Regions from separate parts of the Homo sapiens genome. Here region 2 is linked to region 1. Evidence: fine-mapped expression QTL. A gene starts in region 1. The other region holds a variant in brackets. All regions are shown on one strand. Distances are from middle to middle. Region 1 holds the start of HLMR1 (hepatic lncRNA metabolic regulator 1). Region 2 overlaps HLMR1 (hepatic lncRNA metabolic regulator 1).

Region 1 (2,919 bases):
AGCAGGAATGATACGTGTCCTGGGTAAAAGGAACTGCTGTCAACAGGCCTTTAGTTAGGTGGTGGTAAGATCTGTGGGGAGAGGAAGTGTTCTCCTCAGTCTTTCAGTGAGCCCATTACTCTGGATTGTGAACTTCATGTGCCTCTAGGTCCCTTCCCCCACCTCACCTTAGGTGGGACAGGATGGCTGGAATGGACTTGAGTTGGATATTTAACCCCAGCAGGTCAGGCTCTGGTTACATAGTTTCTCCTGAGGACAGACCTTGTTAAGAACATAATGCTCTAGCATATTTCAAAATGGCTCCTTTTCCCCTCCCACTGCTGGAAGCAGGAGGGGATTTTTTTCCCTAATATTCACTGTGAGACCTGGTAGTGCTCCTGGAGGTAAAACCCACAAAAGTGTGGGGACCTCTCTATGATTCAGTTCCCCTGGATTTTTATCTCTCAGACTTGTTCACACTTGTCTGAGAACTGGCTCCAGCAATTCACAGTTACAAGTTCAGACTTTTCTGTGCCAGCACTGGTTCCCATGGAGGTTTCTGCTCTTGAAGTTGTGATTCTCTGTATTTGCCTGTTGGTCTTCCCAATTTTGGGGGAAGCAATTTGTCCTGTGCCATCACTTCTCTTATAGAGCTAAGAAGAGTTGTTGATTTTTCACTGCTTTTTTTTTTTTTTTTTTGAGACAAGAATATCGCTCTGTCACCCAGGCTGGAGTGCAATGGTGCAATCTCGGCTCTCTACAACCTCCACCTCCCAGGCTCAAGCAATTCTCATGCCTCAGCCTCCCGAGTAGCTGGGACCACAGGTGTGCACCACCATGCCTGGCTAATTTGGTTTTTCAGTTTGTTCAGCTTTTTACTCATTAGGACAGAGTGGCAACTTCCAAATTTCTTACATGCTGAACCAGAAACTGTTTTGTTAGTTTTTTAGGATTCACTTTAAGTCTTTTCCTCCAGGGAGACTTCCCCAACTTTCAGGTCTGCATTAGGGACCCCTATGATGTGCTCCTGTAGATGCTTTTTGTTTCCCATAGCTTTTATACATATTGTGATTGTCAATTCACTTGTCAGATTCCCCCGTTAGACTGTTGGCTCTGTGTGGAAAGGACGGTTTGCCTTACTCATTCCTGTATTCTCAGCACCATCCATCAATGCCTGACATATAATAGGTATTGAATAAATATGTGTTGGGTGAATAAATGAATGAATGGAAGAGCTTATTCTCTGTAATTACAAATAAATTAGAAGCAGCTGTTAAATATAATTCATTCATTCAATCAATCACTATTTACTAAAAGCCTATCATGTGCCAGGCACTAGGTTAAGAAACTGATGATGAAAAAGCCACATAAATATGGAAACATGTTTGTAACACAATCTAATGAAAAAAAACCAGAATACATGTATGTACACCATAATTTAAACTCTTTAAAATATGTAGGAGGCAGGCTGGTATTGCACAGTGGTTTTAAGATTTTCTATTTTTAGTTAAAGTCTCTTTCTTCAAATGAAATCTTAGAAGGACAATGTATAAAACATAAAAAGCAAGATTTTCTGCTTGATGCGGGGGCAGAGGCCAGAGCCTGCCTACCCTTTTCCTAGTCTGCTCTCCTGTCTGTCCTCTGTGCTACTGCCACCTTCCCAAGCCAGAAGTAAGCCACTGTGGCACCTTCACAGAGGATTATTTGAAAATTCCCAAAATAGACTTCTGGTTAAACATTGCAGTTTAAAAACCTGTGTTTTTCTTTCATCTCTTTCAAAATGCTACTAAAATGACAGCAAAGAAGCCAAAAAGGCCCAAGTCCACAAGACAGAAAGAATAGGTGAAAAGTCCATGTCATCTCATTTTTGGAGATGGACATGGACAGGGGCTGAAACTGCAGTACCAGCAGATGGGGAGCTTAAGAAGGAAGCTAGTTCATGGCACAGCACCCGTAAAGTCCCCAGAATTGGAGGCACCAGATTCTTCTGAAAGAAAAGGTAAGAGGCGGAGCTGAAAACAGGAGGTTTATGGAAAGTCCTTGGAGAAAGCAGTCAGACCTCTGGATTCCTTCCTCATCTTTCAGCAGCCTCTCTCTTGTCCTGGCAGAAACCAGGTTTACTCTCTTGGGAAACTCAACCACAGGAGGATCTGGGGACACAGACCGGCGAAGGATGGTAGAGATGCATCACTGAACTAGGAGAATTAAATGATTGGCTTAGGGTTGGGAATGCGACCTCAACTGGATCAGTTGAGGCCATCCTTGGCATTTTTAAATTCTGAAGCTGGAAGTGTGGGGAGGATAGTGTGTGTATTCTGCAGGTGTTGAGGTCCTTGTTCTAGTCCTTGAGATTCCTGGCTCCGACTGTTTCCTGTAACTCTTTAATTCTATGAAACACCCAGTATTCTTCTATTTTATTCTGCTCAGGCTGCATTAACAAAGTATTACAGACTGGGTGGCTAAAAATGGGAATTTAATTCCTTGTGACTTTGGAGACTAGAAATCTGAGATCCAGGTGTCATGGAGGTTGGTTTCACTCTGGAAACTCTCTTCTTGCTTGCATATAGGCCTCCTCTCTGTGCCTTCACTTGGCCTTCCCTCTGTGTGTGTCTTTGTCCTAATCTCACTTTCTTACAGGGACACCAGTTAGATTAGATTGGGATCCATCCGAATGACCTCAATTTACCCTGATTACCTCTTTAAAGGCCCTATGCCAAATATGGTTATATTTGGAGGTTCTGGGAGTTAGGACTTCAACACATGAATTGTGGGGGGACAAAATTCAGCCCACAATGCCTTCTACTATTGCCAGCAAATAAATAGCTTTTGAGATAACTTAAGAGATTTTAAATTTAGTTTCTGGTGCTTGCACGCAAAGAGTTCTGACTTATACTATTCACTTGCCTCTTGGATATTGCCTTTTGTCCATTATAGTTGTCA
Region 2 (2,919 bases), 16 kb after region 1:
AAACTAGGGGCCAGGAGGGCTGCTTGCCTCTCCTGGGCAACCTGTAGTTGGCGAAACTTTAACTCTACGTATAAAGAGACCATTTTTTACAGCGAGTTTGGGGTAAATTGTGTAAAGTCTCAAAGGGACCTAATACAGGACATTTCCTACATTCCGAATTTGACACTTTAAGGAAGACTGCGATAGGTAATGTGACCTTCCACCTTAGAGATAGTATCATTCATTAATGAAGGGTATTTAGTTTTGTTTTTATAACTCCAATAAATTTAAGAAATGTCTTGGTGGTCCTTGAAAGTGGAAAAACATATTTATATGCCATATTTTTCTTCCTGCTGCTCTGTCTTCTTGGAGAGCCTGCCTGGAGCAACCAGGTAAGTTGAAAGGAGTAAGGACTTGGGGCCAGGCAGCCAGACAGACGTGCGTTCACATTTCAGCATTCACATTCATGAATTCAGTAGTTCAGTAGTTCACTAGTTCAGTCAGAGACTGGATGAGTGTGAGCGTGAAACTTATGCTCCCTGTTTCCCCAGATGTTAAGTGAAATCAATAATAATTACATTGAGGAGATGTGAAAATAATGAAGTAACATATGCAGAGTGCCTAGTTCATAGTAGATGCTTGAAAATGATGCTGTCCTTCCTCTTTCCCTTCTGTCTGCCATCCTTCAGATGGACTCAACGACTCTCTTACCGTCCAGCTCTCAAGTCCCTTCTCTTGTGAAAATGGAAAAGTTGAACTACAGTTGAGATATTATTCCCAGGTGTTCTTTGGAACACAGGGGATTTCTCCAAAAGGCACAGAACAAATTGCCTCCAAACAGCCAAGATTCCAGCAGAAGCTGGAGTAGCAGACTACTTGGATCTTCAAAGTACCTGGCCCTGAGTCAGTTAAGGAAGATCTTTTCTTCTCTTTTGTACAATCCTATGATGAGAGCTGCAAAGTGAACTGACTAAGAGCTTCTGCCTTGATCATTGACCTCCCAATCCTAATAATATGTTCACTGGCCAAACTTCCTAATCGATTTGTCTTTTGGATATAACGTTCCTCCTACTGTTTGCCTGATTGAGAAATCTGCTACAGAACATGACCGGTTAGCATTCCCACCAACCCCAGTGCTACACTGACTGTCTTTC[G/A]ATGGACTTTGCTCCTTGCTGCCTCTCTGAGGTCCCAGACCTTCAGAGTGACCTTCACAGCTCTGCCTAACTTTCTGTCATACTTCTATCAAGAGAGACAGCTAAATCAATATTTTTAATGTGCTTTGCTGTCGGAATTCGATGATCTGTCACAGTTCTTGCCCAATACACCCCATCATTATTGTTAAAATGTTTTTAGCTTTGTTTGTAGAATTGCTTTAACTGGTTTCATCTCTGGGAGCTACACTTTGAAATATAACTTTAGCAACATTTTACTATACTTTTTCACAACCCAGAGCAGTACTATTTTATGCTTAGTGGTTAAACTAATTCCATAAATCTTTTGCAACTATCCTCTATTCTTTTTCTTGTAATTTTTACCTGGGAAGGTTTTTACTGATAATCATCCTATCCTGAGTCATCCCACAAACCAATCTGTCTCACTAATCATTGCTTCTAACCTACAGACTAAGCATAACTTCTGCTAAATGATCTTTGATAAGATGCTATGACTCTATAAAGTCTTTGATATTCATGTCTAAATTTAATCACTTGTAGATTTTCATAGAATCAATCTTTCACTTCTACAATTGGGAGTATTTATAAGTTGTTTATCTTAAACAGTTCCTCTATCACGCTTTTCACGTTAAATAAAGCAATCCCTTCAAATCAATTTTCTGTCATGTCTAAGATGTTATTATTTCATGGTATGGGTCAGGGGTCTACAGACTTTTTCTGTTAAGACCTAGATAGTAAATATTTTAAGCATTTCAGACCATACAATCTCTGTTGCAACTACTCAGTTCTGCCATTGTAGCACTAAAGCAGCTATAGACAATACATAAATGAGTGAGCATGGCTGTGAGCCAATACAACTTTATTTATGAATGCTGAAATTTGAATGTCAAGTAATTTCATGTGTCATAAAGTATTACTCTTCTTTTTTTTTAACCATTTAAAAATGTAAAAACTATTCTTAGTGTGTGGGCTGTACAAAAGCCGGCAGAGAGCCAGATTTGCCTGGGAGTTATAGTTTTCTGACTACAGTATACTTTATGGCCAGGAGCAGATTCAGGTTTTGTGGGGACTGAGCTCTTTACAATTAGGGGGCCCTCTTTAAGAAAAGGAATGCAAGACCAGGCATGGTGGCTCACGCCTGTAATCCCAGCACTTTGGGAGGCCAAGGTGGGTGGATCACAAGGTCAGGAGATCGAGACCATCCTGGCAAAACAGGGTGAAACCCCATCTCTACTAAAAATACAAAAAAATTAGCTGGGCATGGTGGCGGGCACCTGTAGTCCCAGCTCCTCAGGAGGCTGAGGCAGGAGAATGGCATGAATCTGGGAGGCTGAGCTTGCAGTGAGCCGAGATAGTGCCACTGCACTCCAGTCTGGGTGACAGAGCGAGACTCTGTCTCAAAAAAAAAAAGAAAAGAAAAGAAAAGAAAAGGAATACAAAATTACAAATATAAAATTAGATACGGTGCTTTGGAAGAGACCCATGCAAATGAAAGGCCCTGAAAATTGAGCCTCTTTGGCATCCTGGTGAATCTACTTCTAGTAACACTTGGACAATCTTGCTGCAAGGGTTCCCTGAACTGGCTGATCTTTGGAGTCACCTAACTACAGGTTCCAAAGCCCCAACAGGTTGCCTGAATTAGAATCTCTGAGGATAGAGCCTGGCAATCAGCCGTCTTGTAAAGCTCCCTAGGTAATTGTACTGTGAACCCAGGCTTGGCAACCACTATTTTAGTAACCATTTTATAACATCAAACAAATTCATTTGA

The links. PIP is the estimated chance that this variant, and not a neighbour inherited with it, causes the effect.
Region 2: its variant is fine-mapped to the expression of HLMR1 in liver (GTEx, PIP 0.98).

What each region holds. Positions count from the first base shown.
Region 1 is chr3:142,924,919-142,927,837 of GRCh38, forward strand. It overlaps HLMR1 (hepatic lncRNA metabolic regulator 1), which reads left to right and starts at 1,757. Exons shown (of 5, transcript NR_038455.1): 1 at 1,757-1,978.
Region 2 is chr3:142,940,731-142,943,649 of GRCh38, forward strand. It overlaps HLMR1 (hepatic lncRNA metabolic regulator 1), which reads left to right. Exons shown (of 5, transcript NR_038455.1): 5 at 669-1,806. Among named protein-coding and RNA genes, the nearest start is that of HLMR1, 16 kb to the left of the region's middle. The variant G/A (reference allele first, on the strand shown) is at 1,134.